Linked DNA regions of Homo sapiens: region 2 is linked to region 1. Evidence: fine-mapped expression QTL. Tissue or cell type: blood mononuclear cells. Region 1 holds a variant in brackets; the other region holds the start of a gene. All regions are shown on one strand. Distances are from middle to middle. Region 1 holds the start of MIR378B (microRNA 378b). Region 2 holds the start of GHRL (ghrelin and obestatin prepropeptide).

Evidence for each region. PIP is the estimated chance that this variant, and not a neighbour inherited with it, causes the effect.
Region 2: it holds the start of GHRL, and the variant in region 1 is fine-mapped to the expression of GHRL in blood mononuclear cells (TOPMed, PIP above 0.99).

The regions. Positions count from the first base shown.
Region 1 is chr3:10,321,247-10,336,965 of GRCh38, forward strand. ATP2B2 (ATPase plasma membrane Ca2+ transporting 2) reads right to left here. Exons shown (of 23, transcript NM_001001331.4): 23 at 2,777-7,879. The coding sequence ends at 7,568. MIR378B (microRNA 378b) reads left to right here and starts at 8,983; the gene lies at 8,983-9,039. RefSeq lists enhancers at 1-174, 7,038-7,586 and a silencer at 22-101. The variant G/A (reference allele first, on the strand shown) is at 5,172.
Region 2 is chr3:10,288,112-10,301,512 of GRCh38, forward strand. It overlaps GHRL (ghrelin and obestatin prepropeptide), which reads right to left and starts at 4,836. Exons shown (of 6, transcript NM_016362.5): 1 at 4,731-4,836; 2 at 2,605-3,340; 3 at 1,962-2,098; 4 at 1,651-1,767. The coding sequence starts at 2,069. GHRLOS (ghrelin opposite strand/antisense RNA) reads left to right here. Exons shown (of 6, transcript NR_073568.1): 6 at 3,957-5,338. It overlaps SEC13 (SEC13 homolog, nuclear pore and COPII component), which reads right to left. Exons shown (of 9, transcript NM_183352.3): 9 at 12,820-13,263. The coding sequence ends at 13,150. RefSeq lists enhancers at 34-649, 2,480-3,082, 4,594-4,663, 4,674-4,923, 4,734-5,028.

The sequences.
Region 1 (15,719 bases):
AGTGACGTGCGAGACCAGAGGGCTGGGGCTCTGGTTGCCGCAGTTACCCTGACCCGGAGGGCTTTGGAATCTGAAGCTCTGGTGGGTCTACTCTCCCGACCAAGTCTGCCCTTTTCCTGAGATCCATAAATGAAAGAAAGGATTAATATAACTATCGGCCGGGCGCGGTGGCTCATGCCTGTAATCCCAGAACTTTGGGAGGCTGAGCTGGGGGGTGGATCACCTGAGGTCAGGAGTTCGAGACCAGCCTGGCCAACATGGTGAAACCCCGTCTCTACCAAAAATACAAAAATTAGCCGGGCATAGTGGCGCGCGCCTGTAGTCCCAGCTACAGGCTGAGGCAGGAGAATCGCTGGAACCCGGGAGGTGGAGGTTACAGTGAGCCGTGACTGCACCATTGCACTCCAGCCTGGGCAACAGAGAGACACTCTTGTAAAAAAGAAAAAAATCTATCTATCTATCTATCTATCTATCTATCTATCTATCTATCTATCTATCATCTATCTATCTGCAGCTTCACCCGCCTCACTACGGCTCTGGGTGCGACTGGTCTTATGATGAATGTTGTAGGATGAGTGACATCTTAGGAGTAAGTAGACTGTCCTAGTGCTTCCTTGTTGTAGTCTCCCTCTCAGTACCCAAGGACTGGGACCAGGGCAGAGGAGGCCAGGGAATGCCCCTCGCCAGAGGCTGGGACCTCTGGCCCTGCCATCCCTAACCCCTATATAGGACTGCCCCTTCCAAACCGATCCCCTGGGGTCCTGAGTAAGTCCCATCAAGGAGACCCCCCTAGGCAATGAAGGATCTCAGCCAGGCTCCTGCAGCTAGAGCCCCAGACCTAATCCTCAGGGTCCCCAACCCCAGGTCTCTGGCTTCACAAGGTAGGGCAGCTGAAGGCTCCCCACAAGCGCAGTGAGAATGCCACACTGGAGGACAGAGCCTGGGCTCCCCGCCTCAGCCACATATGGTCTAGCCCTGGGCCCCTTGTGACATTAAGGAGGCAGATGAGCTGGGGGAGGCCTTGGCTCCCCTTGGGCAAGTCACAGTCCTTCAGTTTCCTCTGCTGAAACTGGGAGTAAGGACCCTAGCTGGAGATGGTCACTGCTTGAAGGAAGATGTTAAGGCTCAGAGAATGTGATAGACCCAAACTGTCAAGGAGCTTTGGAGGGGAGGCCAGGGGAGTAGGGTGTTAGAATTAAGGGCCAGGCCTCTGGGCAACTCTTCTACCCCACTGCAGCTTTCAAGATTTTTTATTGCCCTCTAGTGGAGAAATTGTTGCAGGGGTGTGAGGGGGTGGTGGTTAGGTTAGAGCAGGGAACAAAGGCAGGTTTCAGGGGATCTCTTGGATCTCCTGTTGTTTTTTTTGTTTTTTTTTTTTTGGAGATGGACTCTAGCTCTGTTGCCCAGGCTGGAGTCCAGTGGTATGATCTTGGCTCACTGCAACCTCTACCTCCCGGGTTCAAGCAATTCTCCTGCCTCAGCCTCCTGAGTAGCTGGGATTACAGGCATGTGCCACCATGCCTGGCTAATTTTTGTAGTTTTAGTAGAGATGGGGTTTCACCATGTTGGCCAGGCTGGTCTCAAACTCCTGACCTCTGGTGATCTACTCTCCTCGGCCTCTCAAAGTGCTGGGATTACAGGTGTGAGCCGCTGCGTCCTGCCAGATCTCCTGTTCTTCAAGGAACAGGCTCTGGCCTTGGCTCTATAGCTGCACCACTGACTTTCTAGGTGATAAGGCCAAGTCACTTTTCTCTGAGCCTCACTTTCTTTGAGTGGAAAATGAGGACAAGGGCATATTAGATGTAAATATAATGCATCAGGCATAATTGTGATTAAAAGAATTTCCTTGTGTAGACACTGATGTTGAAGAGATTGGGGATTTGTGACAAGCAACAGAACTGTATCTTATTCATTAAGGTATTTGCTGTAAGGTATTTGGCCCATAAGGCGCTGTAATATGGCAGTTTAGAGTACAGATGCTGGCATCAAGACTGCTAGGTATCAGTGCTGGATCTCCTGCTTACCAGGTGGGCATGCTCTTCACCTCTTTGAGATGCTGTCTCCTGCTCTTTTGAGTGAGAATTATAATAATACCTCCTCTGAAGGTTGATATTGGGATTAAATGAACCCTTGGATATGAAACTGCGTATGGAAGTCAGATGGGCCTATGGCGCTTGATTTGGGGATCAGTTCAACCTAAGAAGAGCTGTGTGAGTGTGTGAGTGTGTGTGTAACTCTCAACCCTTGGGCCAACCTTAGGGATTACTTGTTGGTCTGGGCATATTCTCTTTCTCTGCCAATGTTCAGCAGAGGTTTGTGAAGTCCAGACTCCTCAGGTGCCAGGCTTCCCTCTGCCTTACCCCTCTCCCCAGTAGGGGGGTGCCACCTAGATCCAGTGTCTGTATTCCGCATCTCCTCCCTCTGGTTAATCCAGACCCCAAATCAGGCCAACTTTCCCTGATTTTTGCCCCCCCACCCCTTGCCCCCAAACCTCCTCCGCTTCGTCCTGAGGCCCCGTTCCCCAGTCTTCTTCTATGAGATGGTCAACCATTCCTCATAGGTTAATGGCTCATGGCAGGGTGAGCCTGTCTCCCTCAAATGGTGGGTGTTCAAAAGGTGTGATCTAGTGGAAGGAGAGAGACTGCCCGCTGAGCTGTGGGCCCTTGGGCAAAGTGCATTTCCCTCCCAGGGACTCAGTTTCCCCCTGAGTTCAACTCCACGAAGGGCGGGGACCCAGCTGTCCTTCAGAAAAAGGCCTTGTGATGTGTACCGTGTCTGCATTTCCACGTGTGCATTTATTGTTATTGCTCAGTATAGTGTTGAAAAGGCAGACAAATCCCATTAATTACAAAGAGCACAAGCCAAAGATACAGAGAAATAAAGAGTGTACAATAAGAGCACAGTCACTTCCCAGCCCCGATTGTCCCAGAGCCCCCCAGAGCCCGGGCAGCTTACGGAAGCTGGAGGCGGCACCATTCCCTCGCTACTCTATTATAAAATATGTGCACACAAGAGTTAGCAAAGTGTGGTGACCCCCGAGAGGAAAGGTCCAGGAGGGAGAGCACCACAGGCATTACAAAACAGACTTAGGGGGCTGAGAAGGGCAGTCCCAAAGCAGCCTCCAATATTGTTTTCAGTGGAGGGGGTGATGGCTGCTGCCTGGGGCTGGGGACCCTCCTCCCCCACCTGGGTTGGTATGATCTCTACATTAAAATCAGGAGAGCTTGGTTTGGAACTTTGAAAAGGCCTGGGGACTTCCTGCTATTGTCTGACTTCCCTCCTGGCTCTGGAAGGCCTAAAAGCCTTCAAGAAACGCTCTTCCCTACAAGAGCCTCTAATGGTGGGATTTTGGACACAATGGCAGGAGAGAGATTTGGGTGGGAGGCTTGTCAGAATGCACCAGGTTGGCAGCCTCCTGCAGGTAGCGCAAGAGTGGGCTAGGGGAGTGAGGGTTCCGAGAAGGCCCAGGCAAGAACTGCCTGCATCCCAAAGGTACTGGAGACTCCAAATTAAAGAGCAAGAAACTATCCCCCCAAAACAAAATGAAACAAAAACAACAAAAAACCAGTTCAGGAAAGGGAGATAGGAATAAAGGTTTCTCCATGATGAGAATTAGAAGTGCAGACAACTGGGCCACACATTCTTTCCCAGCTCCAGGCCTAGGAGAGACTCCTCTTTCTCGTCTGGACCAGGGACAGATGGCGGGTCCACCCCAACACAACCAAGGTGGGTGACTTTGGTTCCCAAGCTGAGATTGAGTGGGGGCCTGGTGACCTCTCATGACAACTCCTGGGCTTAGGGGGCAGGTGAAATGATGGGAGGAACAGCAGGCTTCTCTCAAGATCAGGATGCCCTTTTTGTCCCTCTTTACAGAACATAGTCTATTTCACAGCCCTGAGTGGACAGTAATTACAATGGGGGGAAGATGATGGCACAGGGAATGACAGAGCCCAGAATTTGGGGGTGGGAATGGGACAGGGGGTGGAGGACTGGGCACAATTTAAAGTTTATGTGGAAGAATAGATGTGAGAGAATAACTAGGAAATTTTGTAAAAGAAGAGTGAAGGGACTCATCCCACCACATAATAAGACATTAGAAATTGACAATAGTTAAAATTGTATGGCTGGTGCCAGATGAGACACCCAAGTAAGCGAAGAGAAGAGAAGTTCCAGAAATAGATCTAAGTCTATGTAAGACATCAGTGTGTGGTAAAGGTGGCATTTCAGCATGGTTGGGGAAAAGAGTGGCTTCCAACAACTGGAGGACCCAGGACAAGACAGGTTCAGAGTCCTTTGAGCCAGTGCAGTCATTTTAATTGGTCCAGTCTCAGAAATAGGACTGCCTCTCTCTTGTCATCTCTATGCTATGGTTGGGACAAGGGGACAAGGGGCCATGGTGAGGGGTTGGCGGGAGCAATGGAGGCTGCTCCTGAGTTAAAGAAAGCTCCGCCTGAGTTGCAAGAAGGAAACTCCTCAGAGCTCTCTCTGCTCACCTCCAAAGATGAGTGATTCTGCAGCGCCAGGAGTCACTGAACGGGCTCCCTGCCCTTCCCTCATCTGTTGAGGGGGAGACAAGTTGGTGAGCTTAGCTCTCAGAACCAAATCTGCCACTTACTCCTGGAGCCCTTGTCTAGAGGACAGAAAAGAAGCTATGTGGATGATGCAGTCCCAAAGTAGAAAAAAGTATACATTACAGATATATTTACTATGTTCTGTTTGATGTTGTTTTTTGCTTTTTTTTTTAAACCACAAACATTTCAGAACCACACTGCACGAGTCAGAAGAGCCAGCGATTGAAAGCATAACCATTGCATAGTATTAAATGAACAGAGATGGTGAGTTCTTTATTTACATTATTGTCTAGATAAAAAAATTCATAAAAACAGATGAATGGTCATAAATTATTTACCCCCTAATGGAGTGAACTGCCAAACGTACCCCATGCTGCTAGATATAGGACGCAGAGTGCAAGCTTTATGTACTACAGTGAGTTTTGACAAACCAACCATTTCGTGTGTGTGTGTGTGTATGTGTGCAAGTGTGAGAGTGAGGGGGTGCATGTGTGCAAGCATCCTTCATTCCTGACAAGAGAAGACCAACGCTAATGTTGGCATTCTTCCATCGCTCCCTGTTCCCTAAGCCAGGCTCCACTGAGAACCCCTCCTGGCTCC[G/A]AATGAACATGGAGCATGGTGTGCAAACACAGCTATCCTGATGTCATGGAACGAGGTCACGGACACATGACTGATCAAAGAAGTGGGGAGATGGAAAACTGTGAGAAAGGAAACTCCAAAAAACACCATGTTCCAAGGCTGCCCCATGTTTTACACGTGCAGATCTTTCCTTCCTTGTAGGAGAGCAGTGGGCTGGCTTTGGTGGCGTTTGTACTGGAATCCAATAAGCACATCTGAGGGCTGGTCACCCCTTTGGTTATGCAGTTCCTCTCCTGGATACATTCAGAGATACTTCTTCACGACATTCAGGTGATGCGCTCTTGAAGGTCCTCCTTCCAGGAGGATTTTGCCAGGTGGGATGGGCTGACTTTGAACCCCAAACCCTCAAGTTTTTCCACCGCCATCCAGATGTAGGCCCTCCCAGTTGACTATGGCTCTTTTCCCGAGTGGCTCTCATCTTGTTTGTGGAAGAGTTCTCTGGGCCTGGAGAAGGGAAGGGGCTGGGCTGACACAGCCATCGTGAGGAGGGTCAGCATGAGGAATGGATTTTGCAAGAGAGGCGGAAAGTGTTTGGTTTTCCTCGAAGCATGGGACATCATCGATCATGGTATTCAAAATGTCTTTTGCACTGTACAAGTTTATGGAAAAAAGATCATATGCTGAAAAGTCTCAAAGCAAACTTTGTATTAAATACAAAAGTTCTTTTATGAAAAACGCTGAGACCCACAAAGTGCTTAGCAGTTAAGAGGCTGACATCCAATTAAATAAGCTCTTATTAAGTGGGATTACTAGTGCTGTTGTCTTGGGGAAAAAATAACCACCTTTTCTCACCTGTGATACTGTAGGGTTTCAGAATGGCTTTCTGTTTGGGAAAGCAAGACTTGCTGTTAAAAGGCTACAGTATATATTGTGACTACAGGAAGACAATTTGGTTTAAAATCACACTGAGTACATCTCAATATACACATCATAAGGTTCATTCGGATCTAAATAGTGCAGAGAAAAAGGCTATTCTTCTTCAAAAATAAAAATAAAAGCAGCAAGCCATACTGATCCTCATCCAATATGCCAACAGCTCAGATGCTGCCATTAATAAGGAAACAAACCTGTAAGTTACTAAATAAAAAAAAAAATCAACACAATACCATTTATAATATTTCAACACTACCTCAATCTCTGTACAGACAGTGCCAAAGAGAACCTATTTTTGAAATGCTCTTAGTAAACTCAAGCGAGTTTCATTGAGAGAAAAGTCTTCGAGCAGTGCTTTGCAGATCCTGGCATCCTTGGGCCGGATGGCCGTTAGTGTTGCAAACCCAGGAAGCCTTCTCTCCTCCTCTCCCTTCGTCTACGGAGCATGTTGTTAAACCCCTCAGGATGGCAACTCGGTAGCATTTGGCTTCTGCCTGAGCCTCTCACGGTAGTGACATTATTGAACGGAAATAGCAGGCAAAAATCAGAGCATGGCTATCATAAAACATCCAGGATGCAACCCAGGGGAAGTGTCTGTTGGGCCGAGCTGTTTTTATAGCATCTCAGCCACCAGTGTTCTTAAACCATACAAATAGCCAAAGACGTTATCTACAGGTTTGTAAACAAATTACATTCTTCTTTTAGGACATAAATAAGTTAAAATAGAGCAATTTAAGCGGAAACAAGGCAACATGCCGGCAAAGAAACTTTATATATCCATGTATATATATTTATATATATATATATATATCTACCTATCTATATGGACGTATACAGTCTCGGAAAAGTATACGTTGATATAGATACAAAGAAATGGATATAACCTTGTGAGTGTCTATGAAGTTCTTCGGTTCCATTGGTGCAAATCTACTAGGCGAGTTAAGCTCTGCAATTTCAAAAAGTTATTAAATTAATCTATACAACTGAGACCATGCTGTGCAAGCATTTCAAAAACTCACAGACCAGTGGATTGGATAAATAGTCTCAGAAAAGAGTCTGTTTGCAGTTCCCGCCTAAGAAAACAAACAAACAAACAAAAACCCCTCCCCAACCCCCAAAAACCAAACAAGGGGAGGATTGAAAGTGTACAGTACATTCATGCGGGGGACGTGGTGGCTGGGCGGGTGCATGGCTGGTCCATGTCTGGGTGGGAGCCAGGAAGGGCTTGTTTTGGGAAAACCGCTCACTCCCGTAAGCCCCCAGTGGAGATCCCGCCCCTTGCCTTGAAGTGAAAAAGAGTTCAAACAGCATCGCAGCCAGAGAAAGGGTCTGTGGGTGGAAACGTTGGTTTTCTCTCCAGTATTTGGTTTCCGATTGTTGCTCGTTGCTGCTTGGGTGAGTTGGGTGCCTGGATGGATGGGTGCCCGGAAAGCGGGTGGCAGCGGGGTCCATGAGGGCGGGCGGGCAGGCGAGAGGGTCCTCAGCTAAAGCGACGTCTCCAGGCTGTGGATGGGGCTCCCTGGACTTGAAGAGGTAGCTGATTTGCTTGTGTCGGTCGTCAGGTTGATCCCACTGTCGATGGCGCTGTTGTTCTTGTTGAGGGATGACGGCGGGCTCGAGTTCTGCTTGAGCGCGGCATCTTCTTCCAGGTCGGTGTCATCAATGAGGGGGATGTGGGGCTGGGAATCTTCGATCCGGAATTCAGGATGAGCCATGAAGTTATGGATGGAGGTTCGAGATTCAGGCTTTTCTAAACCTTCATAGAGAGAGCTACGGAACGCCTTCACGACGCGGATCTGCAAGGGAAGCACAGGGGTCAGGAGCACTGCCCAGGGACCACAGCCAGGCTCGGGGGGCTCACAGGAGGGGCGGGTGGGAGAAGGGTTAGGGCAAAGCAGGTGGCTGGAATCCATAGTCGCTGGGTGTTATTAGCATTGACAGGATGGGGGAGAGTGAAAAAGGGGGCTCAGGTTATAGGCATCCTTGAGCTGGTTTTTAAAAATCTCTTTGGTTTTGGTAGAAACTAGTGTTAGGACAGGAGGAATCACCAAGCACCATCAAAGAGATGATGGGGAACAGTGGTTAAAGGAAGCACAGTCGACTCCTGCGGGCACCCACACCTAGTGAGAGACTGAGCCTTGTTCACTTTAAAGCAGAGGTTCAACCATGCAGACAGGGAGGAGGACCAGGTGGGAATCAAGTAGGAAAGAGGAGAGGCTATTAAAAAAATTCATCTTAGGAAAACCACACACAGTTAAGAAACCATACAACATGGAACATGTTACGTGTCACAAACAGAAAAGGCACAGAAAGGAGAGACGGTTGGATGAGTTGGGATGAGAGAGACACATGAGGGCCAAACAGAACGGGAACATCAAACCAAAGGCAGCAAAGCAAACCAAAGCCAACCCAGGGCTTTCTGAGGTGCAGAGCAGAGGCAGCCAGAAAGCACATGGGAGCTGGCGGACAGATGACATTCGGGGGCGGGCTGCATGCCACGGGGAGGCCGGGAGCCACATGGCACACACAGACAGACACACGGCTACACTTGGAAGCCTGGACAATGTGAACGGAGGTCGTTTGTACCCAGCGTTTCTTTCCTTCATGCATTTGGGAGGTAAACACTCGAGTATAGACTCAAAGCCCTGGCCGGCCAGTTATTGGAGCTTGCTTTGGGGTCTCTTATTTCCTGGGGGATTTTGTTTATTTCTTTATTTGTGCTTTGAAAACACAAAACCAAAAAACGAGGCTGGAATCAGATGGCCAAACCCAGCCCCAGTGGGATTCTGGGGTGTGTGGAACTGAGTCACAAAACAGCAAGTTCTTTCATTTTCTGTCTCAGTTGTGAACCACACGTCCTGGGGCCTCAGTTTCCTCCGCTGAAGAATGGGAGGAGGCTGGTCATTGAGTCTTCAAGGCTAGTGGAAAGAGCACTGGACTTGGAGGCAGAAAGACCCAACTTGCATCCTGGCTCTGCCACATCTGGTGCCTTGACTGTGGACAAGCCACACTAGCTCTCTGGTTGTCCTCTGTCCTGCCTCACAGGGTGCAGAGGGACGGGACCCTCACTTGGAAGAGAGGTGTCCCTTCTCTGGACTCCTGGGAGGGGCAGCAGTGCCTGTCATCTCAAGAGTCTGATGGGACTTGGGACAAAGGTGCCTCCTCCTCTCGTCCCAGCCCCAACTCGGAGTGGAGTCAGAGGTGGAGAAAACAAGGCGGCGTTGGCGCCTCCAGGACAGAGCCTTAGTCGGCTGCTGTGTGCAGGCCAAGTGGCACCCACCTGCAGAGCAGTGGCTGCCCTGCACCACAGGCCTGCGGGGAGGCAGGGGACTGGACGAGACGGTCGTGGGGAGGCCCCTGAAGTCCCAGGACTTGAGCTCTCAGCGGAACCCAGGGGTAGCTCCTTTGTGAAACCCTGGTGGGGAAAGCCCTCTTTTATGGAAGTGGAGTTTCTAGGTGACTGTGGTTGATGATTTTAAGTGTCATCGCTGAAGGTTTGTTTTACTGTTGCAGAGGGAATTCTTTCTAAAGCATGTCATACGCTCCTCTGACTTCTAATTTAGAGTGCACAGAGAAGAATTTAACATAAGCTTTGTCAATTATCCTTCTTGGTCTTAGGTAAGACCCCATGGATTGTCTTGTTTTTTCTCCCTTGCTGTCAGTCATCGCTTACTAGTTAGTGCTGACTTTTCTGTTTTCTGAAAAGCACCTCTGTCCTTTCACCTTGCATACTGTGAGCTGGGACTCCAGGGTACCCCACTTGCTGGAATTGTGCTTTAAATAAGAGGCAACAAGTGCCAAATAAGAGCCAGCCAGACACGGCCTTTATGCTGGTGCTCCATCATGGCCACTGTGGCTGCTCTGAGCTCTTTCCCCCTGGAGTCCCTCTTTGTGGCTCTGCAGAGATGGTTCATATTCTGATCTCCTGAAAAGTGAGCCGTTACACCTTGATTAACTGAAAACAAAGAAGGCGCTGCAGGCCTCAGCTTTCTTGTTTGTAGAATGGGAATAGCATCAAGGCTGTAGCTGCCTAGCCTGGTGCTCAGTGTGTTCTGAGGTTGAAGTGCAATTCAGATGCTGACTGGAACACCTAGTGTATGTGTGGGGCAGGGGGATGGTGGCAGGACCCTGTCATGTGACTGACAACGCAGAGGGGATGACACACAATGAGATGAGGCCCCTCCGCCCTCCCCGTGGCATGGAGACAACAGAAAAAATGAACTGCTCTGGACAAGACTGTGGGGACGAGACTTTTTGGGACACCCCGCCACGGCCATCTCAAGTCTCCACTTCGGTTCTCTCCGAGGCTGAAATGGAAAAAACTATGGGAAAAAAAAAAAAGGCTCTTCCATCTCCCCTCCCTGCCTACCCTAAAGGTAGGAATTTTTTTTTTTTTGGCATAAGCTGCATTTGGGCGTGGGGGTGAGGGGAAGGAGAGGAAGGGACCTGGTGAGCGGGGTTTCAGATGTTTTGGTTTCGTCAGCACAAAGGGAACAGGGAGACCCATGCCCGTTGTCAGAGGGCTCTGAGAAAACGCACAGGCCCTGGTCTGAGATGGGTTCTACATACTCGAATGTTTACCCGGCTTCAAGGAAGCCAAGAGTCTGGGATTGATTCACATTCATTTCAGGCTCAAGGTTAAAGACTCACAACCTCTTTTAATTTCACTCTCTCTTGCTGAACTCTGTGTCCAGGGTTCTCTAGCCCTCTAGGGAAACAAACACATGGAATATTCAGACAGTGGAGAGGTCTAGGGTTCCCCCCACAAAGCAAGCCATTTTCTCGCCAACCCAAGGTTGCACTAAATTAGTTACCAAAACGCTAATGAGAAGTCCAGCTTTCTTCCCTTTTTGTTGTCTTCATTTCTCCCCCTAACAGTGCAAACTCCTTGCCCTAGGAGTCGTCAGAACCAGGAATCTGCAGGGGAAGTGGGAGCAGGAGGTGCCTTATCTGTCTAGCAAGGTACGGCGTCCAGAATGTGGCTTGGACCTGGCTTATGGGGCTGGCTCTTGGCTTGGGTGGTTTGAAAGAGCAGGACTTCCACTGATAAACACGGAGCCTGCTACAGACTTGCTAAGCACAAAGATGGTTTGAGATGAGTTAGGAATTTGAGGCAATGAGAAAGAGAGGCTGTGCGGCTTTGCCTTGGATCGAAGTGTGGGATGCTAATCTTGTCCTTGACCACCAGTGGGAAGGTGCCCTTCTCCCCAGTCTTGGCCACGCTGGTAGAAGTTCAAGCTGAGAAACAGCTTCCCTGGCCTTCCCTGGAGGACTGACTCCTTTTCACGATATGAGGCTGTGGGCGTGGGCACTGGTTCCGGAATGGAAGTTCAGCCTCTGTGGCTCCAGGTCTGTGGGCCTCCTGGGAAGCGGTGTGACTAGTGGGAAGAATGAGGGACTCCGGAGTCTGACCTCTTGCCACGCCCTTGCTGTGGTCACCCTGGCCTCATCAGTGTCTTTCTCTGCGAAATGGATGTGTTGGCAGGTCCTCCCCTCCCACAATTCAGTGGTGAGGCATCTGTGAAGTAAAGGGAGTGGGGAACTGCTCTGGAAATGTTGAGTGGGGCTCAGGTATAAGGCAATAGGGACGTGCCATTAAGTTTCCGGGGCAAAAACAACCTCGTTTTTGAGTTAGTCAGAAGAGTGCACCAATTCATTCCCTCCCGAGCATCCTCGTGCCATGTGCCTTGTGACTGCGGTCAGGCTTACCATGTGCGTCTGTCTGCTGAGGCCTTCATCTTGCGGTGGTGCCGTGGGGAGGGGAGGGCCTGCGATGTGTTCAGGGGTTTTCCTCACTCCAGTGTCCCAGGTCAGAAGTCAGGCCCTGTCCCAGGCCTTTGTGGTCAACTCTTCATAACCCAGGGGACAGTGGATTGACTCCTTCCAGGGCACACTGGCTGCAGGTGTTTTTGCCTCAGCAGGCACATGGGCAGCCTCCTCTGCTGGGGAGTCCCCAGGAAGCAGATCCCCCTCAGAAGGCTGGTGGGGTGCGGTGGGGGTGAAGGAGTTGTGGGGTAGTGGGGCGGCCCACTTCCTCATCCCATCAAATTGGGGCCCTTCTGTCACTTCCTGGCCACCTGTTTAAACCTCCCTGTGGGAGGAAAGCACACTGGCTTCTGCAGGGACCTTGGCTGGTGTTTAGAGGGTCCTCAGAGTCCTTGGAGACCAGAGGAGGCAGCACTGTTGTAGACACTACTCAAGCAAAGGAGGCACGAGGCTGTGTTGTCCAAATGTGTGTACTGAAACCACAGAGGCTGTGATCCTGTCTGGGAACCAGTGCCCTCAGGCAGGGGTTTGGTCAGGCTCTTTTTAAGACTATAGGCTCAGGAAGGGTCTCAGGAGGCACCCAGAATTACAGGCTGGATTCTGTCACAGAGGGGGAATGCGAGATTCTCCAGGAGGCATGAAGAGGGAGAGGCAAGATGGTGAGCAGGGTGGGGAGGCCCTGGCCAACCCTGCCGGGTCCCCTGAGAGAATGAGGGGTCAGGGCAAGGACTGTCAAGTTGGCTTTGGCTGAGCCTCTGCCTGGGCTTCTTTTCCAAGACTGTTCCAAAGTTGGGGTAACCACGGGCTACAGGGGACTGATCTGGCCTCGAAGGAGGTCAGTGTAGACACATTCCTGTCTAAGCATTTCTGCAGAAATGAAGAAAAGGGCATTTCTGCAAAGAAGTGTTGTTCCCGGACGGGCCCTATTGAATGGCTTTGCAAATGAGGCAGAAGAAAAGCTGAGAAAGAAGTGGCTGAGGTTTGAGCGGACAGCTCTAGCTTCCAGGCTGTGAAAGCTAAGATGAGGGGCTGACTCGGGGACGACTTCCAAAGGCAGTGGGCCTGCCCAGCGATGTCAGGTGTGCTCCGTCGTGGCCAGGGTGAAGTGCTGCCCTTCAAGAAAGAGGCTCAACTGGGATGGACAAAGAACTGGGCCTTCACCCAGAAGCCAGACTGCTAGCAGGCAGCCCCAGCCGGAGGGCCGCAGGAGTCATCGGGAGGGGTGGCAGAACAGAAGTGGATTCTTCCCCATGTAGCTCTCCCTGCCGGGACACTTGGTTACCGCACCTCAGGATAGGTGGGGGTGCTGAGCAAGGCCAGAGCTGAGTTGGTGCAGAAAGGAGCTGGGAGGTCAGCTGGCTAGGCTGCTGCTAAGGTGAGAGCTCTCTGGTCTAAAGGGGAGGAGGATGGGACCGGTGTTGCCTTCCCCGAGAAATCCTGGCAGTGACTGCCTAGTGACGGTATCTCATGGAAATGTGACTCAGCCACCATCTGCTGAAATGCATCTCCATTTCATCTTGGCTCCCCGGTCCTCCCCAGCACTGCGTTTCTGTGCTGACGAATGAGCACTGAGAGGCTCCTTCCCTGCTTTCTGCTTCTGTCCTGCCGCTATGGGTCGTGGACATTTGCCATCAACAGGCTCCCTGTGGCCCGCGCCTCCTACTGGAGGCACTGAGGGAGGCGCTCCCACCAGCACACCGGGTTACCTGCTTGGCTGCAGGGGTTGTGTTGTGGGTGTTCTGGTTTTGGATGGGGGTAGAGGCCCTTTATAAAGTTTCAAGGGGTGAGCTGGAGTCTACTTCTCATCAAAGAAGCTGGAGGCTAAGACTGACACTATGCCAATTGGAGAAGACCAGAACCAGGGGCTCCCCTGCAGATCAGAAGCGCCTGACTGGAAACATAGCAGGGCGATGGGAGGAAAGACAGACTTGTTCCCTATGGGGCCCGAAGCCATGGGTCCGGGAAAGAGCTAGACAAAGCCAGCAATGAGTGATCTAGATCAGAAGTGGTGGCATGAGGAGATGAGCTTGGCAGGAGGGAGATGAAGGAGGGGCCACAGTCCCAGGCTATCTCTCAGATAAAGGAGGGCAGGATGCTGAAGGGCATATCAGGTCCCTCTGGGCCTGCTGGCACCCAGGCAAGATGTGAGGCTCGACCCACCATTTTCTACCAGGGGTCAAGCTGAATGGGCCAGGGACCTTGTCCTTTCCAGGAAGGGCTTAGAACTTCAGCAAGTTCCAAGCTCAGCCACAGGGAAAGGTGTCTGCAGGGCAGCTGATGCAGTCAAAAGTGCAAGGGGAGGAGTGACAGGAAGCGGGCAGAGACTCTGAACTGCTGGGGTGCAGCGTCTAGGCTGTGAGCTCCTAGGTGGCCTGGGGATCCCTGGCTGACTATGACCTCTGACCTGCAGTGACCTCTTGGCTCAACTGTCCCCCTTGACCATGACCCTCATTACTGTGGGTGCCCCCTGACCAACTGGGAAAGTCTGGTTGACGTGACCCTCTCCTGGGTGGATCCCAATGTGACTGACTGGGACCCTAAGGGGCTTGCTCCCCTTGACCCACAGTGACCCTTCTGCTGACTTTGACTGCAAGACTGGGACCTCTTGTCCAACTCCAACCCTTGCCTTGGTGGTCCAGGCTTTTCCTGACCACATATGACCCTAGGCCAGTGGGACACTCTGTGTCCCCTCCATGTCTGTCCCCCTCTGGCTGCCGGGACCCTGTGGTGGGTTGGGACCATTTGGTCACTGATGTCCTCTTGACCAAGGGTGACCCCTTGACTGAACCAGACTTTTTGGCCACTTGGGACCCTAATGACCCTCTGACTGACCCTGGTCCACTGAGTGACTGCCACCGCATGACTGGCTACGCTCTCCTGACCAACGGGACCCTCTTCGGTGGCTGGGACCCTTCATCCCCCTGGGCCTGATTGTGACCGGCTGCCCCCCATGTCCTCTGGTGCCCCAGCCCCTGCCCGCCTGGGAGCTGGCGTGGGCAGTGCCAGCCGGAGGCAGTAAGGAGTCACACTCACGCCCGGCTGCAGCAGGAGGAAGGCTGGTCGGAGAGGAAAGAGCATTGGACAACGACACGCGACTAGGGCTAGAGAGATTGGCTACATCCTGGCTCTGGCTGGTGACCGAGGACTGTCTCCGCAGGGCCCCCTGAAAGGAGGCCCCGCTCTTGAAAGTATTGACTACTTCAATCTGCAACGGAGGAGAGAACGAGACAAGTTGCGAGAAGAACGAGCACAACGGCTACATGACTGACAGGGCAACGTCACAAGAACAGCCGCAGCCACGGCAACAACGACAATGTCACTTAAATCAAAACAAAAATACCAGACACACTCCAAGGCTCTGAAAAACGTCTGCTCAGCTCTGGGCCCACCTGCAGGCCCCAGGGTCCCCGGGAGGACACAGGGGGTCCGGCCTTTGTCCTGTGCTAGTGGCTCAGGGGCCAGTGGGCTGGCCAGTGGGGGAGGCAGTGATTAAACATGGTATCTGGAGGGAAGAGAGCAGTGTTCAGCCTCCCTCAGGTACAGGCGTGGAGGTAGAGGGTGTGGTGGGGGTCCTGAGGTGGACAGAGCTTGGCCTAAATTCCAGCTCTGTCACTTACTAGCTAGCTGACCTTGGGCAAGCCACCTCTCTGAGTCGAGTTTCTTGTTCTTAAGAAGGGTCAATGCCACCTGCCTGGCAGGGTTATCTGTAAGTGGCAAAGCACCTGACCCGTGTTAGCATTCCGCAAGAGGCAGGCAAGACAGGCGCCCCTGCCCACTCAAGAAATCGCAGTCCTTGCTTCCTCCCGTAATCTGGAGACCCCTGCGTGGCTTTGCCGCCAGGGCAGTGACAGCACCAGGGACATATTCACT
Region 2 (13,401 bases), 34 kb before region 1:
TGGTGACACAGTGCTGGCTGGTGGGGGGCAGCTTCCCTCCTGGCCTCAGTGGCCCATCTGTTCAATGGGAGTGGGACTTGGTCTCCAAAGTCTTCTACTCTGAAACTTGATTTTGGGAGGGAAACGTTTGGGGGGAGGTAGAGGGGCCTGAGATGAGAGAGGTGGGTGGGACACTCGGTTGTGAGGGGTTTGGTAGTGGGGCGCTCCAGGTCTCTGCAGCCACTCCTCTTCTGGCAGCCCCAACACCCCCCAGGCGTTTGACTTCTGGTTCCAGCCAAGGCAGTGTGGGTCACATGCTCCAAGGCTAGCTTTCACAGAAACTGCAAAGTTCCCGCTGTACCAGCCCCACCTTGCGTCGTCAGCCACCAAGACCTCTTTCTCATCTGGGTACTGGGCAGCTCCTCTGGCTGGGATGACCATGTGTGGAGCTAGCCGTCTCACCAGCAAAATATCCTGGTTTTGGCCTAAGGGTATGCAGCTCTTTCAGATGAGAATCTAGTGGATCCCACCGTGTAGAGGAAAGGTCTGAACACCGCCAGGTGCTGGTGAGGATGAAAGCGAGCAGGGGCTGGGGGAGCTTCCGACGGCTTTATTCCTCGACTGGAGAAGAGTATGGTAAACAGGCAGGCAGAGGCCAAGGCGGGCACATTTCACTCCTCTGGAAGGAAGAGGCCTCCCCTGGGCCACTGTGCGCTGTCTCTGTCCATCAGACCAGTGAGGAGGAAGAGGGCTTGGGGACTGGAGTCAGCCCTGACCTTGTGTCGCGTCCCTTCCACACACCGCTGTGGTACCTTGGGCAAGTGAGTTCACCTCTGAACTGTTCCTTGGCTCTAAAGTGGGAGTAATGCCAGCCCTGCTTACCTCACAGGTTGTCGTAGGGAGGAGGTGGGGCAGTTAGAGGTGAAGTTGGTATCCTCGGGCACAGCGTCTAATAGCTGCCATTATTAAGTGCTACCTTGGGGGAATCCTGCCTTAGCTGCGAAATGGTGTCACCAACCAAATATTTAGAAGAAACCATTCCCTGAACCACAGCCACAGGAAGGTTGCATAGAAAACCCCGTAAAATCCTTTACTCCCTCCTCCTCTCCATCCTTGGGTTGTCTTAACTTTCTCCTTGCCCCACGCACGATTTGTCAGAGCACATCACCCACACCTGCCCCCTCCTTGCCTCCAGGCGAGGTGAGTGGGTGCCGGAGCCTGGGCTGGCGCCAGCCCTCCCATCCAGGGTGCTGTTCGGAAGCACTCCACCCCACAGTCCAGGCCCTGGAAGCCCCTGAGTAAAACATGGTTTTCTGCAGAGCAACATCTTCAGTCTGGGCCTGCCGTTTATTTCTGGGTGTCTTTGTCTCTGGGCACTGTATTTTCTGTCCCCTTTGAGTCGCCTGGAGGCTCTGGCACCCTCTCTCCTCTGCCCAGGCTCCTTCCGTCCCTATTCTGTTGTAGCAAAGTTACTTCTTCTAGATATTTTTCTCTTAATGGGTAAAGACCTCACAGAGCCCAGGGCAGAGCTCAACTCCTGTGGTACTGGTTTTATAGTTCTGGGGAGCTTGTAGTTGGGACCCTGTTCACTGCCACCTCTCCCTGCCCTCCCTCTCCCCTGACCCCACCCTCCTCGCTGCCACAGAAGCATAAAACTGCAGAGGTACCGACCCGGACTTCCAGTTCATCCTCTGCCCCTTCTGCTTGACCTCCATCTTCCGGGCGGAGCCAGCCTGCTAGAGCTCGGGGCTGCAGCTTGGCTGGTGGCTTCTTCGACTCCTTTCTCTGCTGGAAGGGGGAAACAGTCTGTTTAGGACTCTAAGCCCCCATGTCCTTCCAGAAACAGTGAGGTCAGACCCAGAGTCCTTTGTGCTCTGGGAGAAGACTGAAGCCCAGAGATGGCGCTGCTGCTCCAGGTCACAGAGCTGGTTGCTAAGTGGCAGGGCTGGAACAACATGTGGGGCTTTGTGGGGAGGTCTCACCTGGACTCTCTGGTGTTCAGGGCTCAGGAAGCTGGAGCCTGCCATGGCCAAGTCCAGCCAGAGCATGCCGAGGAGCAGGAGGCTGCAGACGGTCCCTGGGGAGGGCATGGCCTCAGCTGGGTTGCAGACAGGTGGGCCTGGGGGAGAGAGGGTCTCCAGGCAGCTGCCTCCCCTTCTCATGTGCCTCTGAGCTTGCTCAGGTAGGAGCCCAGCAGATGGCGTGAAGGGCTTTACCATCTGGGGTCCTGACTGCTGTGTAGAGAGGACCCCCGCTTCCACCTCCCAAGGTAGAAGATGATGGATGTGTGTTCTCTTCTCCAAGGCCGTTCAGGGCAGAACACCTGGCAGCAGGACTTGATAGGGGCTGGGGGTCCTCCCCGGTGCCTTTTGTCCCAGGCTCTGAGAGCTCATGGCGAGTCTTTTCATGAGGAGGGAGGAAGCTGAACCAGCAAGGGCCCCAGGGCACTCAGCAGGGAGGGGGTTAGAGGTAGCTCCTAAATGAAGCTCTGTCTTCCAGCCAGACAGTCCGACATCCCCCGTGTTTAGAGGGGACTCCTGAGGCCCAGAGAGGTTAAACGGACGGGCAGCAGTCACGGACAATAAACCTGTCAGCAAACGCACACGGAGAGTAGAGAGAGCTTACCTGCAGTTCCTGGCGGAGGTGGTGCCTGGTGGCTGTCAGGTCCTTATATAGGATGACTGGCGTTTGTTCTAAACCAGCAACCCCATCCCAGAGGTGGCCTAGCTTCCGTGGGGCTGATGTACATTCCTTGGGAACTAAAAATGTTCTTGTCCTCTGGGTAGAAGTCAACAGTGGAGGTCAGATGCCCTGCGGAATTGCTGGGTTGGCGAGGGAAGAAGCATGTGCTCCAGCTGTCCCTGGAACACGGTGGCGGGGTGCCCCAAGTGGGCATGGCCCTGGTGGAGGAGGGAGGGAGGAGAGTGGCTCTGGGGTCTGGGTGCAGCTTTGTTGCTGTGTGACCTTAGCTTACTCGCCCTTTCTCCCTGGGTAAAATGAGGCTGTCATCACTAGGAGAGCTCTGAGACCTCCCCAGTCCAGCGCCCCGTTGTTTCCCATGTGCTGTTGCTGCTCTGGCCTCTGTGAGCCCCGGGAGTCCGCAGGGAGCCAGGCTGGTGATTCTACACCTTCCCGAGGAGGAGTCCCACCTCCCGGTTGAGCAGACTGCTCCTGATCATCCTCTCCAGAGAGTGGGTGTGGGGATAACTTCAGCCAGTGGCTATGCTTCAGTCATTTCTGCCAGGTGTGACATGACTGCCTGGCCTGGCGTTTTTTCACATAGCAGCTTGCCTTGCCTCCCTCCAGCAGCTTTGGTCCCTATTTTAGCGGATGCCTCTTCTGAGAGGGAAGTGCATTGGACCTGGAGGTGGAAGATCTACGCTTAGCACGGGCCTGGCTCCTCTCTCATTGACTGGCCTTACGCCGACCACAAATAATTCCCCTTACCCAGAGTCTTTGAGGGTGAAATGAGGCGATGGGGGGAAAGTGGCTTCTAACCTGTGAAACACCCTGCAGATGACAATGGTTTCATACCAGGCCCATAGGACTTCCCAGCATAGGCCAAGGCCACTGCCTCATTTCCCTCGGCCCCAGGAATTTCTTCCTTTCTGGAGTGCTTCATCCAACTGGGTGCCCAGGCAGGAACCCCTAAGGGCCAATGAGTTGTCTGCAGAGAAGTTCTAGCAGTTCAGGAGAGGAGCTCACCTTAGGCTGGGGCTTGCGGCAGGGATGTTAGCAAAGGCTCCAGGAAAGAGGCCTGTGGTGAACTCGGGGCAGGGCTTTGGAGGGAGGGCTTTGCGGCAAGCAGAGGGGAGGTGAAGGCGTGGGTAGAGTACATCAGGGCAGCATGGAGAAGGCTGGGTGGCTTGGGGGAGGGTGGCGATGGGGTCATAACAAAAACATAAGAAGGTGGTTTGGGGCCAGGTGATGGATGCCTTGGGAACTGCTAGCCCAAGAAGTTTGGGCTTTTTTTGCAGGAGGGCAGCCACTGAGGATTCTTGAGGAGAGAGAGACCATAGAATGAATGAAAGAGTTGGAAAGACTTTAAAGCTCTGGGAGGCTGAATCCTTTATTTCGCTGGAAGAAAAACTGAATGCCAAGAGGGCCTCACTTTCCCCAAAGCTATACAGCCATCAGGGGCAATGCTGGGATTCCCCCATGGATCTCTTGACTCCTAATACAGTGCTCTTTCTGATATGCCATCTGGCTCCATAATGAACATTGTGTTCCAGGAAAATCAGTCTGCGCTGAACAGGATGGAATTGGGGCAGGACGTCCAGTGAGGAGGACATTGAGGCAGTAGAGCAGTTGATTGCCGAATGACCACCTACCCTGACTTAAAAGATCAACCTCAGGGAGGATTGGAGCTTTCTAGAGTCTCTTGGGACAGCAGAAGCACAGGCCGGGTTGGACTGAATCTTTAAGTGGACATGAGGGACAAAGTACCTCCTGTTGGTAAACATCTCACCACCAACCCACTGTGGTGGCTAAAATCCCACCTTTAGTCCCAGCAACATATGAGCATGTCACCAGGAGGTCTTCACAGGCCTGTCTGCCACCTGAGTGTAGACATCTTTTGGCCCTGGAGCCCAGAGAGGCTGAATGTGGAGAGGGTGGAGAGAGGTCTGTAGTCCTCAGAGAAGACTTGCAGCTTTTTCAGAGCCACCAACCCATAAAAAAAAAAATCCCCAAACAGAAAAATCCTAACTGTGGTGACCAGGTACCTCCTGAGACATGAAGCCTCCACTTACCTGGACCCTGGAGGCCTCTCCGGGCACAGCTGCCAATGTTGATCTTAGATAAGACCACCAGCAAGTAAACATCCACTGTGCAAAGCTGTGTTATCTTTGGGGAACTGAAATGTCCCCTGGGAGTTGGAAACTCCCCTAGCCACATACCACAGAGTTGAGGAAGGAAGAGCTGATGGACGGAAGAACCATGGCGGGAGGAGTCATCCGGAAGCTACCTCGCTGCCCTGTCAGTTACGGAACAGAGGAGAGATGCCGGCTGGAGGACACAGCAAATTTGAACCAAGAGGAGCTTGGAGGAAGCCCGAGCGACCTGGAGGGGACTGGCTGACCTTCCTCATTCTTTTCAAGTGTGAATAATAACCAAGCCCAGTTTGGCAACTCCTTGAGGGTGAGGACGAAGCCCCATTCTCCTTTTTGGAACTTGGTGGGGCTCAGGAAGCAGGTTCTCTCCAGTCGGTGGCTTTCCTTTCTGTTGCGGGTCTCTTGAGGGCCTGCCTTCATGAAGGCACATGAGTGACTCATCATTTGTGAATTAATTGCTATATGTGAAGGGCATCTGAGAACAAATTATCTTCATAGACTTTTCATTATAATTTTATTTGTACTGATAATTAGTTGGTTTAGCAAGCTCTTTTTTCATAGATTTGGCTAAACTTCAGTCTGAAAGAGGCAAATTCTGGGGTTCTAGAAAGAGATTTTATTCTTTGATATAGGGCTATTTGGTGGGGTTGCTTTTTGTCCTAGTTGTAGCTTTTATAATTTCGAGATTCACATTTTGCAATAGAAATATACAGGCATACCTTGGAGGCATTACAGCTTTGGTCCCAGACCACAATGAAGCAAGTCACACGAATTTTGTTGGTTTCCCAGTAAATATAAAACGTATGCTGATACCATACTATAGTCTAAGTGTGCAACAGCATATGTCTAAATGAATATACATATATATTTTTTTGAGACAGGTTCTTGCTCTGTCACCCAGGCTGGAGTGCAGTGGCACTATCATGGCTCACTGCAGCCTCCACCTCCCTGGACTAAGATGATCCTCCCACCTCAGGCTCCCAAGTAGCTGGGACTACAGGTCACACCACCACACCCAGTTAATTTTTGTATTTTTTGTAGAGACAGAGTCTTGACATGTTGCCTAGGCTGGTCTTGAACTCCTGGCTTAAGTGATCTGCCTGACTTTGCCTCCCAAAGTGCTGGGATTACAGATGTGTAGTCTTTGAAATCCAGTGTGTGTTCTTACAGTGCATTTCAATTTGGACTAGCCATGTTTCAAATGCTCAGCAGCCACATGCGGCTCATTCTAGATAGGCGGCCATCGCTCTTAAATCCTCCCTGACCTTAGCCATGCTCTCTCATCCCTCCTCTTCGCCAAGCTCTGCCTCTCTCACTGGGGCTTCCCTAGCCTCCGGCCATCTTGGGGCCAAAGCTCTAACACTTTGCCTCTCTCGTGTCTTCTGTTCCCCTCCAGTGGCTTCTGCTTTCTGCCTTAAAATACACCCAGGTTCCTAATCCTGAAAACGTCTGTTGTGCACCGATCCCACCCTCCCCTCGTGTTACCATCTCCATTTCCTTCCCCTTTCCTTGTGTCCTCTTCTTTGCTGTGTCCTGGCCCCTCAAAACTTGACCTTGCCTCTCATCCCCACTGCTGTACTGAAACTGTTGTCTCAGCGTTGCTGATCATCCAGCCTTTTAGTCTATGGACCGCTAAGAGCCATAGGACGACCTCAGGGTGGGACGTGGCTTGGAGGGCCATCTCGTCTCAATTTCCAGATACAGACCTGTGTTGGGTTGTGTTGGATTCATGAGGAAAGCTTCATAAGTTTTATGCACGTTTATAAGACTCCATCCTTGGATTCTGATCCAGTAGCTCTGGCGTGGGGGCTTTAGAATCTGTTTCAAGTATCTCAGGTAATTTTGATTATAAATTACCAAGTATCCCAGGTAAATTTTGATTATAAATGCTTGCTTCCAGCAGAAAATATAAACATATGGAAGATGAAATCTTTCTCTCTGAATAACCCAATTCAGTTTCCACTCGTGAATATCTTATATAACCGTAGTACATTTATCAAAATTAAAACACCAGTGTTAGCACATTACTGTTAATCTCCAGACTATTTGTAAGTCACCAATTTTTCCATTGTCCCATCTGTTCTTCCTTTTCTTTCTCTTGTCATAACCACTTTTAGAGGGTTTTGAATGGTATCATTTTGTCTTCACCGTCGGCTTATTAGCTATACTGTACTGTTCTATTCTTTGAGTGGTTGCTCTAGGATTTACAAATATGACTTCAACATATTGCAGAATACCTTCAACAACTACGATATCCTTTCACAGATAGTGTAAGAACTGCACCACAGAATGCTTTCATTTCCCCACTTCTATTCTTTGTGATATTATTGTCACACATTTTATTTTTACTTAAGGTATGAGCCCCACAATGCATGTTAAATAGCCAAAGTTTTTAGACAGATTAAAGAAATTAAGAAAAAGTCTTATGAACTCAGGTATTTACTATCGTGTTGCTCCTTATTCCTTAGTGCAGATCCATTTTTCTTTTCTTTTTTATTTGAGACAGGGTCTCACTGTGTCACCTGTGGTTGAATGCAATGGCGTGATCTCAACTCACTGCAGCCTCCACCTTCTGGGCTCAACTGATCCTCCCACCTCAGCCTGTAAAGGGATATTTGCAAAGGGATATCGGAGTTGTTGAAGGTATTTGCAATATGTTGAAGTCATATTTGTTTTTTTTTTTTTTTTTTTTTTTTTTTTGAGATGGAGTCTTGCTCTGTTGTCCAGGTTAGAGTGCAGTGGCGTGATCTTGGCTCACTGCAACCCATACCTCCTGGGTTCAAGCAATTCTCCTGCCTCAGCCTCCTGAATAGCTGGGACTACAGGCATGCGCCACCACACCCAGCTAATTTTTGTATTTTTGCTAGAGATGGGGTTTTGCCATGTTGGCCAGGCTGGTCTTGAACTCCTGACCTCAAGTGATCCATCTGCCTTGGCCTCCCAAAGTGCTGGGATCACAGGCATGAGCCACCGCGCTGGGCCTGAAGTCGTATTTGTAAATCCTAATTTTTGTATTTTTTTTTGTAGAGACAAGGTCTCACCATGTCGGTCAGGCTGGCCTCACACTCCTGGGCTTAAGCAATCCTGCTGCCTCAGCATCCCAAAGTGCTGGGATTACAGGTGTGAGCCGCTGTGCCCAGCCTGTTTTTCATCTAGTATTTTCCTTCTGCCTGAAGGAAACTTCTTTGACATTTCTTGTAATGGCAGCTCTGCTGGTGATTAATTCTTTCAGCTTTTATTTGAAAGAGTCTGTATTAAAATATATATATATTTTCACTAGGTATAGAATTTGAGGCTGACAGGTTTTTTTTTTTTTAATTTTTTCAGTACTTTAAAGATGTTAATTTTCTTATGGTTTGCCTACTTTCTGATGAGAAGTTGGCTGCTGCTCCTTTTTTTTTTTTTTTTTTTTTGAGACAGAGTCTTGCTCTGTCGCCCAGGCTGGGGTGCAGTGGCGTGATTTCGGCTCACTGCAACCTCCACCTCCCGGGTTCAAGCAATTCTCCTGCCTCAGCCTCCCGAGTAGCTGGGATTACAGGCACCTACCACCATGTCTGGCTAATTTTAGTAGGGATGGGGTTTCACCATCTTGGTCAGGCTGATCTCGGACTTCTGACCTCGTGATCCACCCGCCTCAGCCTTCCAAAGTGTTGGGATTATAGGCGTGAGCCACGGCGCCTGGCCTGCTGCCACTCTTATATTTGTTCTTCTGGATGGAATGTCTCTTTTTTTTCTGGTTGCTGGGAACATGGGCTATTCCCACCCCTATGTGAGCTCCAGCTGCTTGGTCTATTGGTTTCACCCTTCATATATGAAGGTTAGTACTTGTCCAAAGACTCCAGGAGACTCTTCAGCTCTCAGGAGCTTGCTCTGTGCAGCTTCCTCCTCTCGTCCTCTTCTGCCTTCAGTTCTGCCTTGGTCTTTTTTGTTTGTTTGTTTGTTTTTTGAGACAGAGCCTTGCTCTTTCGCCCAGGGCAGAGTGCAGTGGTGTAATCTTTGCTCACTGCAACCTCCGCCTCCCTGGTTCAAGCAATTCTCCTGCCTCAGCCTCCCGAGTAGTTGGGATTACAGGGGTGCAACACCACGCCCGGCTAATTTTTGTATTTTTAGTAGAGACAGGGTTTCACCATGTTGGCCAGGCTGGTCTCGAACTCTTGATCTCAGGTGATCTGCCCGCCTTGGCCTCCCAAAGTGCTGGGATTACAAGCGTGAGCCACCGCGCCCGGCCTGCCTTGGTCTTCCTGAACTCTGACTTCTGTCTCTTCAACTCCTGGAGACTACTAGACTCTGGAGTCTCTCTTTACCTTTTGGCCCAGAAACTGCTTCTGGGTAGTAGTAACCTGGTGCATTTGTTGTGCTTACCTGTTTCCCTTTTCCCAAACACTGCCTGTTGTCCTATGTCTGAAAGCAGTAGTTGTTTCATGTACTTTTCATGATTTCCTAGTTGTTGTTTTTTTTTTAAATTTATTATTTTATTTTATTTTATTTTTTTATTTTATTATTGTTATACTTTAAGTTTTAGGGTACATGCGCACAATATGTGGGTTAGTTACATATGTATACATGTGACATGCTGGTGTGCTGCACCCATTAACTCGTCATTTAGCATTAGGTATATCTCCTAATGCTATCCCTCCCCCGTCCCCTCCCCCCACAACAGTCCCCAGAGTGTGATGTTCCCCTTCCTGTGTCCATGTGTTCTCATTGTTCAATTCCCATCTATGAGTGAGAATATGCGGTGTTTGGTTTTTTGTTCTTGCGATAGTTTACTGAGAATGATGATTTCCAATTTCATCCATGTCCCTACAAAGGACATGAACTCATCATTTTTTATGGCTGCATAGTATTCCATGGTGTATATGTGCCACATTTTCTTAATCCAGTCTATCATTGTTGGACATTTGGGTTGGTTCCAAGTCTTTGCTATTGTGAATAGTGCCGCAGTAAACATACGTGTGCATGTGTCTTTATAGCAGCATGATTTATAGTCCTTTGGGTATATACCCAGTAATGGGATGGCTGGGTCAAATGGTATTTCTAGTTCTAGATCCCTGAGGAATCGCCACACTGACTTCCACAATGGTTGAACTAGTTTACAGTCCCACCAACAGTGTAAAAGTGTTCCTATTTCTCCACATCCTCTCCAGCACCTGTTGTTTCCTGACTTTTTAATGACTGCCATTCTAACTGGTGTGAGATGGTATCTCATTGTGGTTTTGATTTGCATTTCTCTGATGGCCAGTGATGATGAGCATTTTTTCATGTGTTTTTTGGCTGCATAAATGTCTTCTTTTGAGAAGTGTCTGTTCATGTCCTTCGCCCACTTTTTGATGGGGTTGTTTTTTTCTTGTAAATTTGTTTGAGTTCTTTGTAGATTCTGGATATTAGCCCTTTGTCAGATGAGTAGGTTGTGAAAATTTTCTCCCATTTTGTAGGTTGCCTGTTCACTCTGATGGTAGTTTCTTTTGCTGTGCAGAAGCTCTTTAGTTTAATTAGATCCCATTTGTCAATTCTGGCTTTTGTTGCCATTGCTTTTGGTGTTTTAGACATGAAGTCCTTGCCCATGCCTATGTCCTGAATGGTAATGCCTAGGTTTTCTTCTAGGGTTTTTATGGTTTTAGGTCTAACGTTTAAGTCTTTAATCCATCTTGAATTAATTTCCTAGTTGTCTATAGTGTGAGGGAAATTCTTATTTATTATTAAAGAGACAGGCTCTTGCTGTGTTGCCCAGGCTGATCTCAAACTCCTGGGCTCAAGAGATCCTCCTCCCTCAACCTTCCAAAGTGCTGGCCACTGCGCCCAGCCAGGGAAATTTTTTTTTTTTTAGACAGAGTCTCACTCTCTTGCCCAGGCTGGAGTGCAGTGGTGCAATCTCGGCTCACTGCAACCTCCACCTCCTGGGCTCAAGCGATTCTTGTGCCTCAGCCTCCTGAGTAGCTGGCACTACAGAGGCACACACCACTGCACCTAATTTTTGTATTTTTAGTAGAGATGGGGTTTTGCCATGTTGGCAGGCTGGTCTTGAATTTCTGGGCTCAAACATTCCGCCCGTCTTGGCCTTTCGAAGTGTGGGATTACAGTTGTGAGCCACCATGTTGGCTGGGAAATTCTTACAATCGTTAATCCTTTATATGCAGAAGTGGAAGGTCTCCCCTTAGTGTTTCTGGGCTCACTTGTAAATGGAAGCCTGTGAATCTTCTAGTTTTGGGAGTTGTTTTCACAGTGGCTTGCTGAGTTTTGCACTCAGAATGGATGAGTATTTGATGGCAATTTTTGGGGTCTCTGGCTTATAGCACCATAAAAACTCCCTTTTCTTCACCCTGCTGATCTCTCAGAGGTATTGTGTCTATGAAGGCTTTGGCCTGCTCCATGTTCTAGGGTCTGTGGGTTTCTTTTGCTGTCCCAGTTGCTTTGTTTTTGCAAAAGGATTAAAAACATATGGCTGCTAGCGCCATCTGGCCCTAACCAGAGCTCTATGCCTTTTAAATTTCCCTTACTTTTATCTCATTTGGGCTTGACAACTGCCCGGCAAGTTTTACAGATAGTATTTCTATTTGACTAGGCTATTTTGTGGTAATAAATTTTGGGGTCTCCTCTTACCCAGGAATGGTTAATGTGTTGCCACTCTAAGTATAAACAACTATTATGGTGCCAACTTCATAATTATCTTAACCAATCCTTGGTGGTGGGAGTTAAAATAGAGCACACAGTCAGGGACCCATTAACCTACCACCAACCCAGAGTGACACGGGACTAGTTCCTTCTCGGTATTTTCTTGGCGACAGCAGCTGGCACCATAGGAAGCCCAGGCCCAGGCTTGAGGAGCACAGAGCGTATCAGGGAGGCAGACGTGGATATGGTTCAAGGATTCACTGTAGAACTCGACACTCAGTAGTGCACGTGAAGGTGCCTTCCTGGGCTTTGCTTTTCTGAGTAAGGGAAGGAAGGAAGCAGCTGTTTTCATGTTGGTCTCAGAAGGCTTGGGCTTTGTGGACTGACTGGAGGCTGACTGGGCCAGGCCATGGCCTCTCTGTCCTCACCTTTAACCAAAGCAGTTTCACTTTCTTCTATGTTACATAGTATGATCAAAGATTTTTTTTTTTTTTTAAAGGGGATTTTGCTGCTGAAAAAGGAGGGAAGGACAAGAAGTAGGCAGACTAGGGGGCCTGAGGCAAGTGGGCTGACCTTTTATCTGAATCTATTCATACAAAGGTTTGGTGTGAGAAACATCCTTGTATTACAGCTGAGGAGAGCCCCCCAGCTCCCACCCTGATTCTACAGTGGGGAGTAACTGTTGAGATGGGCCAGGCCCTGACGCTGGCTTTACGTTTGCACAGTCCTGGGCAGGGCTTCTACCTTCTGAGCGCTTCCTCATCAGTGAACTGGGTACACCCACACGGGGTTCTCGTGTTGCTTAAATTAGCGAATGTGTGAAAGATCCAGTGTAGGGTCTGGCTCACCGCAGGCTCACTGATGGCTATGGCGATTGTCAGGGTCACAGGGCCTCCGCTGAAAGGTGATACCTGGTTCAGGGTCAGTTAGGTCTCCCATCATGGGGCCCTCCTTTTCCTGACAGGGTCAATAAACTAAATGAATCGTGCCCACTTTCTGGGCCAGCATCTTAACTATTGGTGTTTGGTTAATACCACGTTGCACCTGCGTGGCATTTTGTAGGTCACCAGATGCACTAGCGTGTTTGAATCTTGCAGCCATCCTGTAGGGCAGACTGTATTAGTCCCATTCTGCAGAACAGGATGTGTACCGAGAGGGTAAGTAGCAGACCCAGGGCTACAGTCCTTGTCACCAAAGGCTGAGTCCAGTGCTCTGTATGGTGCTTTCAGTATAAACTGAATCAGAGATGCTCATGCAGTGACAAGCCACCTTTGTGCGTGGGGTTAAGCCAGGCCATCACAGCCGTGGCCTTTGTGAATAGTTTGTTCTAGTGCGTGGACCGACAAGAGTCAAACTGAGCTGGTGGGGTGGGGTGGTTAGGATAACGCAGCAGGAATTATAAGCAATATGACTTTATTTAGTTCCTTTGGAAACAAAACCCCCCAAATAATGCCTGAACCCAAAGGTACATAAAAATGACCCAAAATAGATTTGAACATCACTTGTAGTTTCTTCCTCGTAACATGAGTGCTTTCAGCTGGACAGTAGATTACAAAGCATCTCCGATCACGTTAAGGCAGATGATCAATCTGTGGCTGCATCTGTAACTCCTCCTGGGAAAATAATCCTGTTGGAGTTGGGGGCTCTTCCCAGTTGTCTGGTTAGTTGGCCCAGGAAGGGGCAGTCCTGGAGCTGGCGGGTGGGGAGCCAGGCCCCACCTGTCTTGTCACTGCTCGTTCTGCTGGCCCTCTGTCACTGATGCTGATACGGAGCCCTGGCCCTTGTTGACATCACTGATGCACACCCACTGCCCATCAACTGACTCCTTCCACAGGGTCACCTGCGAGTCAGTGCACAAGCAGATTATCACGGGTCTGTGCCCTTCCCTCTGCTGTCCCCTAAATATGAGCCTCATCCTCATCAAGAACCACTGCCCAGAGGCTTGTGGGTGAACAGAGCATGTCCCTCCTCCACTGAA